Linked DNA regions of Homo sapiens. The protein of the gene in region 4 interacts with the protein of the main gene of each other region in a pairwise test. Each region holds a gene or a part of one and is shown on either strand. Other genes may lie near its edges. The genes, in order: ARL3, PTPN2, TUBGCP5, TMEM132D and ATP7A.

The links.
Region 1: the proteins of TMEM132D (region 4) and ARL3 interact in a two-hybrid assay, tested with the Homo sapiens proteins (one large-scale study listed by BioGRID).
Region 2: the proteins of TMEM132D (region 4) and PTPN2 interact in a two-hybrid assay, tested with the Homo sapiens proteins (one large-scale study listed by BioGRID).
Region 3: the proteins of TMEM132D (region 4) and TUBGCP5 interact in a two-hybrid assay, tested with the Homo sapiens proteins (one large-scale study listed by BioGRID).
Region 5: the proteins of TMEM132D (region 4) and ATP7A interact in a two-hybrid assay, tested with the Homo sapiens proteins (one large-scale study listed by BioGRID).

Annotation. Positions count from the first base shown.
Region 1 is NC_000010.11:102,707,497-102,711,922, reverse strand, and holds part of ARL3 (ADP-ribosylation factor-like protein 3), read left to right. Parts: intron 1-4,426. UniProt on the Homo sapiens protein: Small GTP-binding protein which cycles between an inactive GDP-bound and an active GTP-bound form, and the rate of cycling is regulated by guanine nucleotide exchange factors (GEF) and GTPase-activating proteins (GAP).
Region 2 is NC_000018.10:12,810,990-12,815,415, forward strand, and holds part of PTPN2 (tyrosine-protein phosphatase non-receptor type 2), read right to left. Parts: intron 3,367-4,426; coding exon 3,214-3,366; intron 1-3,213. UniProt on the Homo sapiens protein: Non-receptor type tyrosine-specific phosphatase that dephosphorylates receptor protein tyrosine kinases including INSR, EGFR, CSF1R, PDGFR.
Region 3 is NC_000015.10:23,001,029-23,005,454, reverse strand, and holds part of TUBGCP5 (gamma-tubulin complex component 5), read left to right. Parts: coding exon 1-23; intron 24-1,227; coding exon 1,228-1,353; intron 1,354-2,301; coding exon 2,302-2,390; intron 2,391-4,426. UniProt on the Homo sapiens protein: Component of the gamma-tubulin ring complex (gTuRC) which mediates microtubule nucleation.
Region 4 is NC_000012.12:129,074,506-129,078,931, reverse strand, and holds part of TMEM132D (transmembrane protein 132D precursor), read left to right. Parts: intron 1-206; coding exon 207-398; intron 399-3,856; exon of another isoform or gene 3,857-3,872; coding exon 3,873-4,426. UniProt on the Homo sapiens protein: Regulate neuronals morphology via inhibition of the WAVE regulatory complex (WCR), a complex that controls F-actin cytoskeletal dynamics.
Region 5 is NC_000023.11:77,986,867-77,991,292, forward strand, and holds part of ATP7A (copper-transporting ATPase 1), read left to right. Parts: intron 1-1,375; coding exon 1,376-1,865; intron 1,866-2,366; coding exon 2,367-3,092; intron 3,093-4,426. UniProt on the Homo sapiens protein: ATP-driven copper (Cu(+)) ion pump that plays an important role in intracellular copper ion homeostasis.

The DNA.
Region 1 (4,426 bases), on a different chromosome or scaffold from region 4:
TGGCCCGTGAAAAATTATTTTAAAAAAATAAACAAAACACGAGGGTAGTCTTTTCAGTGGCTGTTATGTGTCATGCTTTACATACATGACCTCATTTCATCCTCATAGCATCATCTCTTGAGATGTAAGTATTGTTCCTGTTTTCTTCTTTTTTTTTTCTTTTTTTGAGACGGAGTCTTGCTCTGTCACCCAGACTGGAGTGCAGTGGCGCGATCTCCGTTCACTGCAAGCTCCGCCTCCCGGGTTCACGCCATTCTCCTGCCTTAGCCTCCGCAGCAGATGGGACTATGGGCGCCCGCCACCACGCCCGGCTAATTTTGTGTGTGTGTGTTTTTAGTAGAGACGGGGTTTCACCATGTTAGCCAGGATGGTCTGTATCTCCTGACCTCGTGATCCGCCCGCCTCGGCCTCCCAAAGTGCCGGGATTACAGGCGTGAGCCACCGCGCCCGGCCTGTTCCTATTTTCTAGCTGAAACTGTGTGCAGTGTTATGTATATACATATATATATATAAAAACACACACACACATACATATATATACATATATATATACAGATACATATACATACATATATATATATATATACACACACACACACACACACACAGAAGCTGAATACAAGTCTGTGAAATTCTAAAGCCCATAACATTCATTTCATTAGGACTCTGGTGAAGTGGGAACCCACTCTTCCTGAGGAGATGCTCAGACTTTGTTCCTTAGGAAACATTGTTTGTATTTATTTAGGAGAGGGTGATGAGAAAGAAGACACAGTTTGGATTAAGTTCTCAATTTTGAGCTTTAAGCTGATAGGAGTTCAGTTGAAAGACGTAAAAACAAATGGAAGTCAGTTATATTTAAGCTAGTTATGGGGACCGTATGTACTTGACTGTTGGCTTCGTAATTTCAGAATTCAAATTTTAGCTGGTCCTCACAACCACATATATTTTCCATATACCAACGCATTCCTTCTCCCTCCACCACTCTGGTTTCTTTGAATGACCTAGTTTGTATTGTTTTAGGTCAGGGCACCATGCCTCTGCCAGTAGTTTAAGCTGATTTCGAGGCAGATAAAACGTCTGTAGTCCATAGCACATCTATTCATGATTTGACTGTAGAAAAGTTTGTTTAAATGTTTTGTGGTTGAGTCAGACCACTTCTGCCCACCAGGGTGTAGATAACTTGTATACACACATGCTGGTAACACACAATATACTTTTAACTGAAGTTCATGTTTCTTAAATTGTTTTATTTAATGTCACAGGAATATAAATCCTACATAGAGATCATGCCCGTTTTGCTCACTGTTGTACTTGGGGCACATTAAGGGTGTTTAATGATAATTGCGTGAATGGATATTTTGGCCAAAAAATGCACTTTAAAAATTAATGTCATTGTATTTATACTGCAAAACTCAGCCCTATGATAAATTTAACTTCTAATCGCTGTCTCCCTTCATTTGACAGTTAAAATAAAATATGGGCATATATGTATAGATGCACAGAATAGACTTATTCTGGTCTCTTTCATCCAGCCTCTTAAATCAGCTTACTTTGTACCTTTCAGGCAGAACCCTGATCTCTATAAATATCCTCTTCCCTATTTAGCAAACCCTGATAATCCTGTGATCCCATCCTCAGTAGTTGGATTAATATGATGCTGTATTATATTTGCACTTGTCTTCCCTAGACCATGCTTGAAATGCCATTTATCATTTTGCTGGAAGAAAACATTAGCTGAACTTTGCATTTCTCTGTAATTTCACTCAAAGGTGAAGTATCTGAAGTTATTATTTCCTAATAAGGAAAATTACTCATTAGAAATGTAGAAGCACTGTATTCTACACCATTAGGTTAATAAAGTTTATCTATAGTTAGAATTTTTTTTTTTTTTGAAACAGTCTAGCTCTGTGGCCCAGGCTGGAGTACACTGGTGTGATCTCGGCTCACTGCAACCTCCACCTCGCAGGTTCAAGCGATTCTCCTGCCTCAGCCTCCCAAGTAGCTGGGAATATAGGTGCCCACCACCATGCCTGGCCAATTTTTTGTATTTTTAGTAGAGGCAGGGTTTCACCATGTTGGCCAGGTTGGTCTCAAACTCCTGGCCTCAAATGATCCGCCAGCCTCAGCCTCCCGAAGTGCTGGGATTACAGGCATGAGCCACTGCACTCAGCCTTATAGTTAGAATGATTTCTTTTTCTTTCTTATCTGTGCTTTGCTCCTCTCCTTTTAAGGTGAATAAACATTATGTTTGTCTCTTTTTTTTTTTTTTTTTTTTTGAGACAGAGTCTTGCTCTGTCACCTAGCCCATAATGCAGTGGCCCGACCATAGTTCACTGCAGCCTCAAACTCTTGGGCTCAAGCCATCCTTCTGTCTCAGCCTCCTGAGTAGCTGGAACCGCAGGTGCACACCACCACACCTGGATAATTTTTTTTTTTTTTTTTTGGTAGGGATATGTGTCTCGTGTTTGTTGCCCAGGCTGATCTTGAATTCCTGGCCTTGAGCTATCCTCCTGCCTCAGCCTCCCAAAGCACTGGTATTACAGGTGTGAACCACTGTGCCTGGCCTTGTTTTTCTCTTAATTCTTTAATATCAAATGTAATGAGTGTGGAGCAAGTCTCTGCCTGAAAAAAAAAACAGTATTTTTAGTAACTTCTTTAAAAGAGACACATGAGGAAAAACCCAAAACATTAATTTTAAACTTTGAAAATATTTTATAGGCCGGGTGCAGTGGCTCACTCTTGTAATCCCAGCACTTTGGGAGGCCGTCACGGGCAGATTGCCTAAGGCCAGGAGTTTGAGACTAGCTTGGGCAACATAGTGAAACCCTGTCTCTACTAAAAATACACAAAATTAGCTGGGTGCGGTTGTACACATCTATAGTCCCAGCTACTCCGGAGGCTGAGGTGGAAGGATCACCTGAGCCTGGGAGGCTGAAGCTGTAGTGAACCATGATTTCACCACTGTACTCCAGCCTGGCATTAGGAGTGAGACCTTGTCTCAAAAAAAAAAAAAATATATATATATATATATATATAATATATGGTTTTATTTTTTGTTTTTGTTTTGAGATGGAGTTTCACTTTTGTTGTCCAGGCTGGAGTGCAGAGGCATGATCTTGGCTCACTGCAACCTCTACCTCCTGGGTTTAAGCAATTCTCCTGCCTCAGCTTCCCAAGTAGCTGGGATTACAGGCATGTGCCACCATACCCGGCTAATTTTGTATTTTTAGTAGATACGGGATTTCGCCATGTTGGCCAGGCTGGTCTCGAACTCCTGACCTCAAGTGATCCACCCACCTCGGCCTCCCAAAGTGCTGGAATTACAGGTGTGAGCCACCACACCCGGCCAAAAAAAATTTTTTTTAAAATAGGAAACAGATCTTCCTTCATAATTTCTGCACTAAGCAGAAAATGCATGAGAAGAACTTTGCCTGTGTCATTTAATGTACTAATTTGATAAATTCCAGATGTTTTATAATTTATTTTAAGAGGTAATGAGACCTCTTCTTTTCACTTACAATCAGGAACTCAGGATGAGTAGTAAAATGGGTTTTCCTCTTAGCCTTTTTATGTCACCAGTCCCCTAAGGATCTCAGAATTTTAATTTTTACTTTTCTGAAAGGTGATATTATAAATGAGTGATTGCAATATAGCTAATAGAAACCAGGGAGACTTCTTGTAAATATAGTTTTAAGAAGGAATGCTGTCAAAGTATTCAAGACCAGATGAGATAAAAACAGCAAAAAAAAAAATCTTGCCTTTGGGTGGATCGCTTGAGCTTAGGAGTTCAAGACCAGCCTGGGCAACATGGCAAAACCCCATCTCTACAAAAAATACAAAACTTAGTGGGGCGTGGTGGTGTGAGCCGGTAGTCCCAGCTACTGGAGAGGCTGAGGTGGGAGGATCGCTTGAGCCCAGGGAGTCGAAGCTGCAGTTAGCCGTGTTCACGCCACTACATTCCAGCCTAGGCCACAGAGGAAGACCCTGTCCCCCCAAAAAAAAGAAAAAGGAAAAAAAAGTCTGGCCTTTTAAAAAGCCAGACTTCTGTTTGTTTCCAATCTATTCAATCTCTGTCCCCCAAATCTTTTGGCATAGAATTTGTCTAGCTTAGACTAAACCTTCCATCTTACTGCTGGAAAAAATTGAGGCATAGAAAGGTTAATGTGGTCCTTAGCAAGTCAGTACAGATACAGTACTAGAAGTGGTAAACAAAGAGTCTCTGAGGCAGAAAGGAATTCTTAATAATTATGCATATTTGCGTATGATTGTCCAAAGATGCAGTTGTTGAGAATTATTTCTCAGAAGTATCCTTTGATCTTAGTGAACAAACTGGTTTGAATTATTGCCTGGTACAATGTGAATAACAAATACAACCATTTTGCATAATTCTAAGACTCAGTTTGAAGGAATTTCTTCTTGGGCTGGG
Region 2 (4,426 bases), on a different chromosome or scaffold from region 4:
TTTTATAGTGAAGACATGGAGTACTTGCTACTCTCCATGCCATATTCTAACACTTCAAATGTGCTAGCTCTTAATCCTCACAATAACCTTAGGAGATAAGCACTAATACTAATATTACCATTATTACACCCTTTTTACGGAAGATGTGGGGAGAATAATTAGGTAACTCGCCCAAGGATATGCACCTAACAAATAGTAGAGACAGAATTTTAACCTAGGCAAGTCTGGGTTGACTATGCTGTGACCCCTTATAAAGATGTGTGTTCAACAAAGTACCCCACAAAAATGTTAAATTGTCTCCAGAATTTACACTGGTCAATTTTTGAAGTTTCCACTCTTGACTGAGACCTAGTTATGTAACTTGGCCTTATAGCTGGACAACACTCAACAATGTCAACAAATAAGATGACACCAAAAATCAAGTCTCACTGGACCACTTCCCAGAATATGCAACAAATTCAGAATACGTCAACAAGGAAAGCACTCGGCAGAGAGAGAAATAAAAGAGATATTTAATGCTAGTGAATTAAAAAAACCCCACAAACCCAACAATGTCATTTTGCCATGGCTATGTTCAGCAAACTCACTCATGGCTATGTTCGACAGACTCATTCATGGCTATGATCAGCAGACTCACTCGTGCCTATGTTCAGCAAACTCACTCATGCCTATATAGGTTCAGCAAACTCACTCGTCTCTGTCCTCCCTGTGACACACAAGGGAGCCAGCACTCCTGAGTCACCTGCCTCAGGTCATTAATGCTGACTGGTGAAGCCAAGGAATTACATTTCACTAAACTATAACCTCAAAGGAGCTCTCATTTTGAGGCCTGGTACTGTTTCATCTTTCTTTCTAATTCTGTGCTCACGTTGCACCAACCCATGAGTCACTGCCACTAGGAGCCATGCCCCCCACACAATGCCTAGAACCCTAGCTCTACCCATTTCTCTCACTGAAGAAAGCTTTAAGCAATGCAATTAAACTTCAAATCCTCTGTAATTTGTTAAAAGTTTATCATTTACATTTAATACTTTATTAGTAATATCAAATTACCAGCTAGAGATCTTACAACATTAGTTCTGAATTGCCAAACTAGATATTTACTCTGGGGGGTTAACTGTCATCATCAATACTGGGAATATGCTAATAAATATGTGGTAATACCAGCAACCAGCTTAAGTATTTATGCCTGACCTTGTGCTGAAAGGCAATTGCAAATAGCCTATATGTCTATAGGAATGTCAAAGTCATTGGAAGTTTTCTGTAAATGAATACATGCTTTAAGATTATAATTACACATATTTACAGACTTAAGATACAATCACTTTGGGCTGGGTGCGGTGGCTCACGCCTGTAATCTCAGCACTTTGGGACGCCGAGGTGGGCGATCACTTGAGGTCAGGAGTTCGAGACCAGCCTGGTCAACACTGTGAAACCCCATCTCTACTAAAAATGCAAAATTAGCCAGGAGTGGTGGCAGGCACCTGTAATCCCAACTACTCGGAAGGCTGAGTGGGGAGAACCACTTGAACCTGGGAGGCAGAGGCTGCAGTGAACCGAGATTGTGCCATTGCACTCCAGTCTGGGCAACAAGAGCAAAACTGCGTCTCAAAAAAAGAAAAAAAAACCAGTAGCATGTGTGGTATGTATTTATTAATCCAACTTTATCAGTAATCACTTCATATGCCGATGGTCTAAATGCACCAATTAAAAAAGATTCTCAGAATGCCAAGACCATTTCTGCAGAAATTAACCCCTTGGAATGGGCAGCATGCTTTTCTGATCCTGAGTACCTGAAGGATAAAGATGTTTCCAATATCCTATCTGGAATAGGGGCAGAAAATGCCTTAGAATTGAGAGCCTGAGGACAATATCACACCAGATAAATTAACAGAAAAAAAATCCTTCCTAGCCACAAACTGCACTGTCAAAGACTCCACAAAAAAGTGTGTCCAGAAAAACTCATCTCTGTGATAAAAAAAGATCCACCCTCAGATAAAGTATGTATTCTAAAACTAAAGACACAAAACTTAAAAAAAAAAAAAGCAGTGGTAGGAAAGACACAATCCAAAGGACAATACATTTCCCTCCCAGTTACCCGTCTCATCACAGCCAGGAAGCAGGCAGGGAAGGCGGCATGCAGGCTGTGAAGGCATGGGGAAATCTGATTGAACTACTTTTCTTTTTGAACTCCAGATTTAAGTTGGTGAAAGCTCACTGTGATTAGAAAGGGAAATTTTCCTAATCTTAAACATCTGAAATAACTTTTACTTCACCTAAATCACTGATCACTGCCAAAGTGACCCTGGCAAATCCAGTGTTCCCAAAGTCTGGCGTCTGAAGCAGGACATGTTCTAATGGGCTGAGTTTCCCAAACATTGCGTATTTTGGCTCTGAGTGCCCTAATGTTTCTGTGCATTAAGAATATTTTAATGCTATTTAAAGATTTGGAAAAAATCTTTTTAAATAAACCTTTATTCTGACACCAATGGTCCGATCTAATTTACATTCTTATATTGGCTAGTAATCAGAGAAATGAAAGTGCTAGTAAATATGTTCACACATGAGAAACATAATGAAAAGACAGTCGATCTTCTTATATTATGCATCAACTTACAGTATCTGCTTATGTCCAATACTATGTGATTAAACCAGACAAAAAATGGAGTCTGTGGTTGTTTCTATTTTACATTTTAACTTAGTACATAACACAAGTTTCTGATCAGTCTTTGAACTTAGGTTCTACAAATATGCAGTAAAAATAGCTTAATGAGAATAAAGCCACCAACCAGAAGAATATAACATTTTGCTGGAATTTCATTATATCTGCCATAAATATTCAAGTTGCTTGTTGTTATAAAGTCAAATATCACATAAACCAAGTATCAGTGTTTAATGAAGGCAAAAGTATCTCAAGTTTCCAGTTACTTTAATAATTAAAAGATTAACCACCCCCAAAATGAAAAATTCAGTTTCTTTAATGAAATCTTGTTTCTACAAGGGCTTTTAAGTAACACACAGGATTTAACCTGAGGCTGAGTATATATGAGGAAGCTAGCTAAAATTTTACAATTTTAAGACAGCCAGCTGGATTTACCACAAAAATTCAAATACACTCTTTGAAACAAAGACAAGGGCTCAAGTGGAGTGCAGTTATTTGATGCTATGTGTATTTAACAAATAGATATGATTTAAAACCTGTATGAAGTTTACCTGTATACTAGAATCTCCCTTTATACATTTTGCTCCTTCTATTATAGCCATGTATGAGAATCTCAGTTGATCTGGGGTCTGAATAAGACCCATTCGGTATTTTCTCATGTTCAGTAACACTTGTTTTATGTTAATATCATCTCCTTTTTCCATCTGCAAGAAAGGCAAAAAATGAGACAAGTCTTGTTATTGGAACCCAGGAAACAGAATCAATGCAAGATCATTGCTAAGATTTTTGCTATGCATTTTCTCCTCTGAAAGAACAACGATAATTTAACCCTCCAGCTATAACTGTTATGTACACAACAACTATCCCAGCCTACTCATCCCTCCCCACATCTCAACCCCTCAAGTAGTTGGAGGACTTTGATTCTTTAGCTGATTCACAACTGATTCCAAACCAATCATAGTAATCTCATTCCTTCTGGCCAGTCATTGGTTAAAGGAAGGATTTATAACCAGTTCTGGCTAGTATAAGGACTATTTTTTTTTTTAAAAGTCATGGCAGGAGTCAACCTTTCTGCTCATTCCCCTTCCGCCTCCTTCATGTCTGCACTACAGACACGATGTCTGGATATACAGCACCCATCTAACAATGGTGGAAAAGAGGCCAGGCATGATGGCTCATGCCTGTAATCCCAACACTTTGGGAGGCCAAATCACTTGAGGCCAGGAGCTAGAGACCAGCCTGGCCAACATCGCGAAATGCCATCTCTACTAAAAATACAAAAATTAGCTGGGTGTGGCGGCGCATGTCTGTAATCCCAGCTACATTGGAGGCTGAGGCTGGAGAATCGCCTGAACCCAGGAGGCGGCGGTTGCAGTGAGGTCAGATAGTGCCACTATACTCCAGCCTGGGCGACAGAGCGAGACTCCATCTCAAAAATAAATAAATAAATAAATAAATAAATAAATAAATAAATAAATAAATAAAAATGTGGTGGGTCACACCTGTAATCCCAGCACTTTGGGAGGCCAAGGTGGGCAGATTATGAGGTCAAGAGATTGAGACCTTCCTGGACAACATGGTAAAACCCCGTCTCTACTAAAAATACAAAAATTAGCTGGGCATGGTGGTACGCACTTGTAGTCCCAGCTACTCGGGAGGCTGAGGCAGGAGAATCTCTTGAACCCGGGAGGCGGAGGTTGCAGTGAGCTGAGATTGCACCACTGCACTCCACCCTGGCAACAGAGCGAAACTTCGTCTCAAATA
Region 3 (4,426 bases), on a different chromosome or scaffold from region 4:
TGCACAACTACATCATGACCAGGGTTTGTGCCTCTCCCATCTGCTTCAGTTCTATCGTCGTATCTATACAGTTGTTCGTAGAGAATTACTCATACTATGTTTATAAGTAAAAAATACCTACAGACTGTGAAAACGGGACATGTAGCAAATTTGATCATAAAATAACATGGCAGTGGGAGGAATGTTTTTGTAAATATACCGGAATATGTGTATCCAGAGGCTGTTGTCCCTCCAGTCCAGCAGCCCCTGGGGACAGGCACAGCCACAGCTCGTCTTCTGGAATTGCCTTCAGAATGTGCCGCATAGTCCTTTAGGTTTCAATAGTGGTGACAGCTGTCCCTAAAAAATGGCTCCAATGTTTAATAACAGCCAAAATCCACTACGGTGTGTGGGAGGAAGATGCAGCCAGGTTATAGACTTTTTTCTTAAAAACAAGAACTCACTACAAAGTAAATGAAATTATTTTTCTGATACATCTAAAAGCCAGTTCTAGGGGAAGTTCTAAAAGAAGCGTTCAGAAATTGGAACAAGAGCAGTATTATTAGAGGACAGTATGCATTTGGGGTTTGAATTGTTGTTTAGACCTGTTTATACCTGGTCTGTGAGTTCTGAAACCCAACTTGCTTGGGTGAAGTGAGCCACTGAAGCCTGTGTTTTGGATGGGAAGGCTATGGCAGAGGGGCTCCACGTTTCCCCTGACTGCATTACTGCCTTCACAAGGTTGGCCTTCATTAAGCCCCTAATTGTTAAGAGTAAATGATAAGAGTTTAAGTTTTTTCTTAGTTTGTTTTTTATTTGAGGTATACTTATACTCATTTTAGAGAAAGATCAATGTATGAGAAAAGGAACTTAAGAAACATAAATTCACTGTAATTATTTGTATAAAAGTAACACATTTACTTGATTTTTTTTTTATCGATGTGTCTTATATACAGCTTAATGTGCTTGCCCCTTCCTGCCAGGAAGTCTGTTAGTCCAGAGTTTGGCGTTCATTCATTCACTGTGCAAGTGGGCGTCCTACAGGATTGCCCCCGCCGTCCTCTTAGGATCAGAACGCCAGAGTATCCAGCCAGCCTTTGAAGAATGGTACTTTATGAAACTGTCTAGATGTGCTTATTGAAGGAAGAATTTGAGAGGAGTAGAAGAGCTTAGTAAAAAAGATTTGTGTGCAGCACACAAGTCCTCAAAGAAGGCTGCTGATGAAGCTTTTTATCTTTCTCTTCCAAGATTCTACACAGTACAGGGCTGGAGTTTCAACATCAAGTCGAGGAAGCCAAGGATTTAGATCAATTGATTAAAATTCACTATAGGTATCTGTCAACCATCCATGACCGGTGTCTGCTGAGAGAAAAGGTACATGAGATGTCTCCTGCAGATGTGGCCACTGCTGGGCGAGTGGCGCTGTCTGCGTGCTTTGGAATTTTATGATGATTAAGCTTCTGTCCTGTAGAATATTCTTTAAGGAAGAACCAGATGAAATGAGGTTACAAACAAATGCCCCAGGCCGGCCACAATGGCTCATGCCTGTAATCCCAGCACATTGGGAAACTGAGGCAGGCAGATCTTATGAGGCCAAGAGTTCAAGACCACCCTGGGCAACATAGCAAGACTCTGTCTTTACAAAAAGTTAAAAAGATTAGCAGACATGGTGGTGCATACCTGGAGGCCCAGCTACTTGGGAGGCTGAGGTGGGAGCATTGTTTGAGGCCAGGAGTTTGAGGCTGCAGTGAACTATGATCTGACACCACTGCACTCCACTCCAGCTTGGGTAACAGAGCAAGACCTTGTCTCTTAAAAAAAAAAAAAAAAAAAAAAAAAAAAACAGAAGGAGGAGTGCCCTATTCGTAGAAATTGTATCTAAGAGCAACATGAGAACTATGTGTGATAGTCAACACTCACTCTGCGTTACTCTTGGATTCATTTGGAAAATTGTGTCTGCAGTTGCGGAGCAATAGCATGTCCACTTCATGTGAATAGATAGAATTCAGTAATGTTAAAACCATTGCAATTATTTGTCCTAGTTTCATTGGTGAATTTAAATGGCCATCCCAGGAAAAGGTCTTAATAGTTTGTTTTGTTGGTTTGACTGTACTGCTAATATCACTTGTATCTTACATTCAGTGAATGCATGTGCCTGGTCCCAAATGGGCATGGTTCAGAGCCTAGTACCCTTCCATATACACAGAAGGCAGTCACTGTGGTGATGAACTTTTTCTGTGATTCATTTAAAATAGGTAAAAGTGTTGGTATCAGTGTCCAAACCTAGTTACACAGTTTGTGTTCTGTGACTTTGGTCTGCAGGTCAGCTTTGTGAAAGAAGCTATCATGAAGGTGTTGAACTTGGCTCTCATGTTTGCAGACGGTTGGCAGGCAGGCCTGGGCACTTGGCGGTAAGTATGTGATTTCTGCAGCATCTGCACTGTGACCATTTCAGCTTCAGCTTCCCTTTTTTTTAGAGACAGGGTCTTCCCAGCCATTCAGGAGGCTGAGAGGAGAGGATTGCTTGACCCCAGGAGTTCAAGACTAGCCTGGGCAACATAGCAAAACCCAGTCTTTAAAAAAAAAAAAAAGTGCAAGTATTTTTTGAGAAGTAAAACATTTTTAAAAATCTGAGGTCTTCTGATTTAAACAAGCAAACATTTTTAGATTATACTCATGTTATATTGTGTACGTTTTGTTAAATTTTTATCATGGACACCTTCAAACTGAAGTGGCAAAGACAGTGTTGTGAACACCGTGATGGCACCTGCTTCAGCTGTGCCAGTGAGGACAGCTCTGTCATGTCTGTGCCCACCTCCCCAGTCACACTTGCTGAATTATTTTAAATCAAATTCTGGACATCATGCTAGACTATTCTCCAAAGTTGTATTTTGGATGAGCTCTAAAAGATGCTGTGTTTTGAGAGTGTTTGTTATTCACACACATCACATAGGCAAGTGCACTGAATCAGGGGAAGTGGCCCGGGAGCAGCTCCCTCTAGCACTGCCATCCTCTACTGTTAACTCCAGTGTACAGCTCAATATTTTGTTACCTGTCCTGTTTATAAAGTCAGTGCAACAGTAATTCTGCTGTTACTTCCATGAAATAAAAGTGCATGTTTGGTTGACTGTACTTACTCCATGTCAGTAAGGAAGTAAGAATTCATTTGAGTGCTAGTATAATTCGAAATCTCCCATTGGCTGTACTCGGAATCAAGAAACTAAGGTAGTAGATGAAGCCATAGCTGCAGGGATGGAAATAGAAGTCTTCCTCGCTTTATATTGCTGGCTCAAAGTGTGCAAAATATATTTTGCTTTTTTTTTTTCTTTTTTTTTTGTCTCACTTTGGGGTGGAGGAGAAATAACACTGCTGCATATGCTTTGCTGAAATTCAACTCTTTCAGGTTTTTTTTACAAATAAATGTGAGAAAAATACAGGGGGTGAGGAACTTAAGAAGTCTATCAACCATCGCAGTTTATGGATAAGTTAATTGTTCCTGATTGAGACTTAAAGCCGAAAAGTGAAAAATTGTAGAAGCAATGTGAAATTTGCTTGAATGCTATTAGATGATATTTTTGAGCAAATGGTGTTGTGGCTGTGTTTTGAAAGGAGTCTTTATCTTTAAAGTATACATTTATACTTATGAAATATTCATGACTGTGGTGCTCTGATGTCTCCTGTTTGCTTCTGAATATTGTGGTGGGGCTGTGGAGGTGTAAGCTTGGCATGTGGCACCTGCCATGGCTGGGCAGTGGGCCATGGAAACCCCTTCTGAAGTTCTCTCTTACAAAGTGTTTGATATTTCTTTAAAAAAAAAAAAAAGAAAGAAAGAAAGCCGAGCACAGTGGCTTACGCCTGTAATCCCAGTGCTTTGAGAGGCTGAGGTGGGCGGATCTCCTGAGGTCAGGAGTTCGAGACCAGCCTGACCAACATGGAGAAACTCCATCTCTACTAAAAATACAAAATTAGCCAGGCGTGGTGGTGCATGCCTGTAATCCCAGCTACTTGGGAGGCTGAGGCAGGAGAATTGCTGAACCCAGGAGGCAGAGGTTGTGGTGTGGTGAGCCGAGATCGCTACATTGCACTCCAGCCTGGGCAACAAGAGCGAAACTCTGTCTAAAAAAAAAAAAGGCAGCCAGGCTCCATGGCTCACAACTGCAATCCCAGCACTTTGGGAGGCCAGTGGGGGCAGATCAGCTGAGGTCAGGAGTTCGAGACCAGCCTGACCAACATGGCGAAACCCCATCTCTACAAAAAATACAAAAATTAGCCAGACATGGTGGTGGGCATCTGTAATCCCAGCTACTCAGGAGGCTGAGGCAGGAGAATCACTTGAACCCAGGAGGCGGAGGTTACAGTGAGCCGAGATCGTGCCACTGCTCTCCAGCATGGGCGACAGAGCAAGACTCCATCTCAAAAAGAAAAAAAACCTTTTTAAAAATAATTT
Region 4 (4,426 bases):
CCTTGCTTTATGCAAAAAATGCATTACATTTTCTCAAGCAATACATATGATTCAGAAGGTGGTGTGAGTGGGAAAGGCCTGTTCTCATTCATTCTGGCTCACATGTTGCCCTGCCGCTGCCTGCACACTGGCACTTCCTCCTGTGACTGGAGGCATTGCCTGGACCACAGAAAGCCTTTCCTTGTCATGTCGCTTCTGCCCTCCAGATCCTGTCTCCTCTGTCAGACACCATCCTCGCTGAAAAGACCATCACTGTGCTGGACGAGAAGGTGACCATCACAGACCTCGGGGTGCAGCTGGTGACAGGGCTGTCACTCTCCTTGCAGCTCAGCCCAGGAAGCAACAGGGCCATCTTTGCCACTGCAGTGGCTCAGGAACTTCTGCAGAGGCCAAAACAGGTATGGAGGAGGGCTTGAGACACACTTCAGCAGGGTCCCTCACCAAGTGGATCACACACCAGGCAGGCACCACGCCAGGCGGGTCGCACAATAGAGTGGGATCATATATCGGGCGTTTGTTTCTCCATCTGCAAAGGGCTCTTCTGAAGCAGGTGACTCCTCTGCCTCATGTTTCCCAGCTCCCCCATGCAGAGATGAAAAAAATAAATACATATATACATAAGGATTGCAACATGTGAAAAATGAGAAGCCATTAAGGGGCAGGAGCCCTGGAGGAAAGGCCCACCCCTCATCCACCATAGTGCAAGTGCATGCAGGTGGTCACCTGTGCTCTCCACACGCTTCCTGCTTCCATGAGGGCATGAGGGCACGTGCAGGCTCAGAGCAGGTGCACAGCCTGATGCCAAGGTCCTGCTGGAGCGGAGGGTGACAGACCTGCTGAGTGGGGAGCCTGTGGCGGGAGATCGCTTCCAGACCATTCATTGTTCAGCTCAAGGCAGAAACAGAGAATTCATGGAGATGTCAGTCACAATTTTCTTTTACTTTATTTGGAACCAGTGTGAGCTAATAGAGTGTGTTTTGTGTGTTGTGTGCATATGTATATGTGTGTTGTGTGTCTATGTGTTGTGTACATATATGTTGTTTTTGTGTGTCTGTGTATGCATGTGTGTGTCTTGTGTCAGTATTTTGTGTTGCTTGTTTTGTGTTGTGTGTTGCATGTGTGCTTGTGTTGTATAGGCACCTGTATGCATGTATATATGTGTGTTGTGAATGTATCGTGTGTTGTATGTATGCATTGCATGTGTCTATTTGTTGTTTGTATGTGTGCATATGTGTGTGTGTTGTGGGTCTGTGTCATATATGTTTTTGCTTTATGTGTGTCCGTATGCATGTGTGTCTTGTGTATTTTCTGTTGTGTGTATGCTTGTGTTGTATAGGTGCCTGTGTGCATGTATATGTGTATGTGTGTTGTGTGTATGTGTGTGATGCATGTGTTTGTATGTGGATACAATGGCTTACAAAGGGGACTGTTATAGGGGACCTTTGAATGTAGTAAGTTCTCCCTCATTAGAGGTGGATAAACATTATTTCTTAGAACATAGGAATTTGGGTGAAGCTTGCTTAATAACAAAACATGGTGGTTGCAGGTCATTAGTTCTTTTGCCCCATGAAAAGGGATCATCCTCATGTGGGGCAGCTGGAATCCCTCCGGCCCATATGGGACATTGTTCTGACTGCTTCCCTTCTGGATCAGGAGCCTTTTCTGCGCACTCTTCCTCGGCAGGGTGAGGTACCAGGCCTTCCCTGCCTTCATGCACCAGCTGCGGCTGTGGCCATGTTCAGAGGAGGCAGGAGTGCCACACTGGACTTGCTAAGGGGCACAAAGAGCCTTCCCATTTTCCCAGCCTGCACCTGTCACATAATGCTCCCCTCTCAGGCATGAGCTAATCTCCTAGTCCTTATACTACAGTCTTTGTTTGCAGAGTTTTGGGTTAGAAAACACTTGAAAGTGGTTGATCCCAATAACAGAATCGAATTCTTGGCCAAAGCAAACCTCCTTTTCTCAAGGAAGGATGCCAGCCGAGAGGCAAGTTACAGATAGCAATGAAGAAATAACCTGAGGCTTTTCTCTGTCTTTGTGGGTGATAACATCAGCGGACCACCAGCTAGGCGTTAAGGAAGGGATAAGATGCAGCTAGAAGAAGGCCAGAAGGCTAATCCGTTCCTGACATGCAGAGCTAAACACGCTACCCTGAGATTTGCTCCATGGTTGGTTTGCAGGGCTCTTACTCCCTGCCTGCAACTTGGCTCTGACAGTGGTAGTTTCAAGAACTCCGTTGTGCGTTTGAATGCTCTGCTCAGATTTCATGGCCGATTGAGAGAACCTGGTAAGTCAGTGTCATGTCCAGTAGCTTTTGCACTGTGCCTTGGCAAGGTTATCCGCTTAGCAGGTAGTCCAAGCCAGTGTCTAACAGAATAAGTATTTCTTGGCTGAGCTGAAGGAAAGAGCAGAGGCCACCAGCCACATTTGAGGAGACTTTCTTCTTACTTCCAAAGACTAAACAACAACTGTGTAAAATTACTTCTGTCATGGTCAGGGGCCAGTAGGTCATAAGAGAAAAAAAAATCCACTCAAGCAAAAGCTTAAATAACAAAGGATGTGTTATGAGGATTATAGGGATCTCACAGAACCCAGCTGCAAGACCTTGGAGGAAAGGGAAGGTCAGCACTTTCATGCCCACTCTCTCTCTCACCTGTGTTTTTATTTTGGTCTAATTCATTATTGTCTTCCTATGGATAAATGCCATGCCCAAACATTTGCTTATACATAGTCCATCAGAGGGCTTCATTCCCCAATTTTATATGTGCCCCCACTACACATCTTCCCAAGCATAACTTTGTCAGTCTTGTCTTTCTGGTTTCAAGTTCGAGAGAGAGAGAGTAATGCTGGCTGGCTCAGCATTGCTGAGATTGATGGCTCTAATGGCAGCAGCTGTCTCATTTCAATCAGCTGTTGCTGTGGCCCAGCGGGCAGGGTCATGGGCCACCTAGTGCTGTTCATCATCTCGGGCTTGGGGCGGAGCAGGTTCTCTGAGAGGGAGGGAGGGAGGGAGGAAGCAATGGATCTGCCACTGCTGTCAAGCATAATGTCATCTTCACTAAAATTAAAGGCTGGCATGAAATTGGAGGTTATCTCCAATGATCTGCCTGGTCAAACTATTTGCAAAGAAAGTTGGTCTAAATCAACAAAGTGAAAACAAGCTCTGGCTGCTTTTTGGTCTTCCAGTTTCCTCCAGTTGGGTTGGGTGGAGGAAGAGATGAAGACTCTCCAATCAAGATGCTTCTCCCTCTCCTGCTGTCAGGCTTAACTCCTCCCTCCAAGCCAAGACTATGGCCTGAGGCCAGGACAGATCCACTCCTGCAGACCCAGAAAAGGCAGGGCTGGCAAAACCACAGCCTGCAGCCCTGCAGTGGGACCTCATCTAGATCAGAGGCTTTTATCTGTATTGCCAGTAATCAGTGGAGACTCAGTATTACAACTTAAAAATAATGTAATAAATATTTTTCATTTGAATGTGTAACACTTGTAAATGATTCCACTAACCAGTAATTTCCTTTGTCGTGCAATTTATTATTGTTCAGAAGTTGATTCTGAACAGCCCAAGGGCCCATCTTCCTTTTATAACAACACCTACAGGAGAAAAAAAAAAAAAGCAAATCTTCTTACGGATTGTTTAATACTGGCCCTGTTTTGTCATTTTGTTGTTGTTTTATTTTGCTTTTTTGCATCTTTGTGAGAATTCATTTTCTTTTATACTCTTGGTACTTCTTATCGCTTATTTCTACACTGTTTGAAAGGTTTGTCTTTGTTCTTGTAGCAATAGTTTTGCCGTTGTGTGTCTACTGTACTAAGACTTGGGGCTCAATGAGCTTTTTGGCCCATTTGATTAACTTACATATTTTTCTCCATAGGAAGCAGCCATCAGTTGCTGGGTCCAGTTCAGTGATGGCTCAGTCACGCCCTTGGATATTTACGATGGGAAAGACTTCTCCTTGATGGCCACATCTTTGGATGAGAAGGTAGTCTCCATCCACCAAGACCCCAAATTCAAGTGGCCTATCATTGCTGCGGAAACAGAAGGACAAGGCACCCTGGTCAAGGTGGAAATGGTTATTAGTGAATCCTGCCAGAAATCCAAGCGGAAGAGTGTGTTAGCTGTTGGAACGGCAAACATCAAAGTTAAATTTGGCCAAAACGATGCTAACCCCAACACCAGTGACAGCAGACACACAGGGGCAGGGGTTCACATGGAAAACAATGTCAGTGACAGAAGGCCCAAAAAACCCTCGCAGGAATGGGGGAGTCAGGAAGGACAGTACTATGGCAGTTCTTCTATGGGACTCATGGAGGGACGGGGCACCACGACAGACAGGTCCATCCTGCAGAAGAAGAAAGGCCAGGAAAGCCTTTTAGATGACAACAGCCACTTGCAGACCATCCCCAGCGACCTCACCAGCTTCCCAGC
Region 5 (4,426 bases), on a different chromosome or scaffold from region 4:
AAATGAAAATCTAATCACATAATTCTCTGCTTAACTTTTCCATGGCTTCCTATTACCTATAGGATAAATCACAACCATTATTGGCATATAGAACCCCATAATAGAGCAGTTGCCTAATTTTCAAGCCTCTTATCTTTCTCTACTTTTTTGTTTCCATTCATCTGGAATTCTCTGCCTCATATATCCTTGCTGATTCCTGTTTGTCCTTTAACATTCAGGTATTATCTCTCCTAAGAATACTTTTCTGACCCATATTCCCAGGGATGAATGGGTATCCCTTTTCTGTATTCTCTGTCCTATTGTTCCTGTGACATGTTCAGCTTTGTATCCTGAGAATCCCAGTTCCTGACGCACATAATAAGTGCTCAATAAATATTAGTTGCTCAATGTTTAATTTTATATAATTCACTGCTGTTACGAAGAACTTTCCTATTTACTCGTATGATCCTTGTAATAGCCCTGGAAGATAATAGGGCATATTTTCTCATTTTTCAGATGGTAGAACTAATGGGTGTGGTTAGCTAATAAGTGGAGAATTGATGCTGGAACTTAAATCTTCTGACTCCCAACCCAGTATTTGTGTGTGTGTGTGTGTGTGTGTGTGTGTGTGTGTGTGTGTGTCTTCATCATGAATCTTTGTAAGATGTCAGCCAAAGAGATGCAATCATGACAGTAGTTAAATTATATGCAGTAACTAAGCTACAAGAATATAATCATTGTTTTATAATCTAATTGGGCAAAACAATAAAGATGTTCTTATTTTGAACAAAATTAATAGTATGCTCTAGTGACTTAGGGGGATATAGGAGTATATGCTATAAAATCCTATGAATACTGCCTTCACTCATAAACCGGCAGGCTTATACTTTTCTTGCCAACAAAGTTATCCTAATTGAACATTATTTTTATTTTTTTAAATTGACATATAATAGTTATACATATTTTTAGGAAATTGGACATTTTAAAATATTAAACTTCATATTACCTTTTATTTTTCTGTAGCTGATCCTGTTTCATGTATAACCTTTTCAGTTGGTAGAGTGTGAAGTGTTGGAGTAATTTATGAAAGGAATGGAAGGAAAGAGTAGTTTGTACTCTGTTGTGAAATTCTTGGGTGTGTTTGTCAATATACATGTTTCAAATGCCTGATAGGTACCACAGTCACATATGTCTGCATATATAACTTTACCATTCTTGTAGGTACACAAGACATTTTATGTTTCTTTCTAACAAGAAGAGTAAAAATGAAAACTAATAGGGAAACTCCATTAGATTGAGTTGTCTCACTCTTCTTGAATGTGGTGTGATGATTATTATTTTAAATCCTGTGTGATAGAATTTAATTAAACTGACTTTTGGAATTTCCTTCCAAAAGGTATCACTGGAAGAAAAAAATGCAACTATTATTTATGACCCTAAACTACAGACTCCAAAGACCCTACAGGAAGCTATTGATGACATGGGCTTTGATGCTGTTATCCATAATCCTGACCCTCTCCCTGTTTTAACTGACACCTTGTTTCTGACTGTTACGGCGTCACTGACTTTGCCATGGGACCATATCCAAAGCACATTGCTGAAGACCAAGGGTGTGACAGACATTAAAATTTACCCTCAGAAAAGAACTGTAGCAGTGACAATAATCCCTTCTATAGTGAATGCCAATCAGATAAAAGAGCTGGTTCCAGAACTCAGTTTAGATACTGGGACACTGGAGAAAAAGTCAGGAGCTTGTGAAGATCATAGTATGGCTCAAGCTGGTGAAGTCGTGCTGAAGATGAAAGTGGAAGGGATGACCTGCCATTCATGTACTAGCACTATTGAAGGAAAAATTGGGAAACTGCAAGGTGTTCAGCGAATTAAAGGTAATGTGTCTGGTGTTGATTGTTTTGTAAGGCTTAGGTGTCTGTTTTGATCTTTTAACTTTTTGCTTTCTTCTTAAGCATGAGTTTTGAATCCATGAGACTAGAGTGCTTGCTGTATCATTGAGGTACAGCATATTCCCAGGATTAAAAGTTAATGATTATAATTAAAGGTTACATAAACCTTGAACTGAAGAAAAGGCAGCTGGGTTGGCAATTCATGGAATTCAAGGTTCTTAACACAACATGACTAGGGTACTCTTTACCTCTAATATATTTTACTTAGGCATGGAGAAACTTGGAGACCATAGCTACAGTGGTCATATCTCTTACTTGTTTCTAGTCTATGCCAATAACATTTTCTGAAAAGAAAAAAAATTAAGAAAATATGATGACAAGAATGAGAGAGAAACAATTATTTGTGGTTATTGATTTAGAAAACAGAATGTTTTCTGAAGTAGCCCAGGAATAACTGAATTAATTATATTTCTTTTTATTAACTAGTCTCCCTGGACAATCAAGAAGCTACTATTGTTTATCAACCTCATCTTATCTCAGTAGAGGAAATGAAAAAGCAGATTGAAGCTATGGGCTTTCCAGCATTTGTCAAAAAGCAGCCCAAGTACCTCAAATTGGGAGCTATTGATGTAGAACGTCTAAAGAACACACCAGTTAAATCCTCAGAAGGGTCACAGCAAAGGAGTCCATCATATACCAATGATTCAACAGCCACTTTCATCATTGATGGCATGCATTGTAAATCATGTGTGTCAAATATTGAAAGTACTTTATCTGCACTCCAATATGTAAGCAGCATAGTAGTTTCTTTAGAGAATAGGTCTGCCATTGTGAAGTATAATGCAAGCTCAGTCACTCCAGAATCCCTGAGAAAAGCAATAGAGGCTGTATCACCGGGGCTATATAGAGTTAGTATCACAAGTGAAGTTGAGAGTACCTCAAACTCTCCCTCCAGCTCATCTCTTCAGAAGATTCCTTTGAATGTAGTTAGCCAGCCTCTGACACAAGAAACTGTGATAAACATTGATGGCATGACTTGTAATTCCTGTGTGCAGTCTATTGAGGGTGTCATATCAAAAAAGCCAGGTGTAAAATCCATACGAGTCTCCCTTGCAAATAGCAATGGGACTGTTGAGTATGATCCTCTACTAACCTCTCCAGAAACGTTGAGAGGAGCAATAGAAGACATGGGATTTGATGCTACCTTGTCAGGTAATTATCATTTTTTCTTTGATTACCCTAATGTTCTTTTACTTCCATTTTGCTGCTTCTTTTGGCATTTATCAATGAGAAATGATTCATAGGCACTGTAATTCCACTTTTGCAAATATGTCCTATGGAGGTAGCCAGCAGTATATACAAAGATGCATAAGGATGTTTGTATAATTGCTTATGATATTTAAAAACTGGAAACAATAACTCGTGGTGCAACAATAAATAACTCATGATGAAATGCTATGAAGTCATAAAACATTATGGTATTAAAGATAATTAATGCCACAGGAAGGTGTCTGAGGTATTTTGTTAAATGAAAAAAAGCTGAAAAGCTATATATACAATGTGATCAAAATTTTATAAAGAAATGTATCTGAATTTACGCCATGTATATATTGTTTATGTATATGAATAAGATTCCTGGTAGGATATGAACCAAAATTTTAACAGTGATTATCTTTGGGTGGTAGGATAAATGTGATTTTTGTTTCCATTGTGTTTCCTGGTTTTATAAGTTGTTTTTACAATAAGAATGTATGTATGTAGCTATGTATTTATATAATGGGGGAAGCCAGTGCTCTTTTAAAAACAAAAGTAGTTGAAATAAATAATAGGATTTTAACTATAATTTTATATTTAGGCATTCAAATTAAACTGACTCCAGAGCTGTCCCAAAGTTTTCGTATTTCCTGACAGCTCTTACCTTTGAACTGAAACAAAAAATGTATATTCAATGGAATTTAATTATGTGAAATTGTTCTTTTGAACCAGAATTGAACCTGGCCTTGAATTAAACTGGAAAATGCCCAAATGAAATTTTTTGCTTGAAATAACAATTGAAACGTTTTACAACCAATTTCTGGACAATATAATTAATCTTTGCTATCCTGATTAGAATGAAAGATATCAAATAGTAGTATTCCCTTTTTAGGCTCACTAAATCTGAGTAAAAAATTTTACTAAACACATGTCTAAATTGTTATGGTAGATTAATGTCAGTGAGAGAGGACTTAGAGACATACCATTATTAATTTTTAGTTCTTAATTTTTCTGTTGGTGACAAATGGTAGAAATTATAGAATTCTCACTTTTTAAAATTGACACATAGTTCACATACCATAAAATTTGCCCATTTAAGGTACACAACCCAGTGGTTGTTAGTATACTTACAGAGTTTTCCAGCCATCATCACTATATAATTTTAGAACTTTTTATCACTCCCAAAAGAAATCACATATCCATTAGCAGTCATTGCCCATTTCTCCTTCCCCTCCCCAAGCTCCTGATAACAACTGTTCTACTTTCTGTCTCTGAATTTGACTATTCTAGGG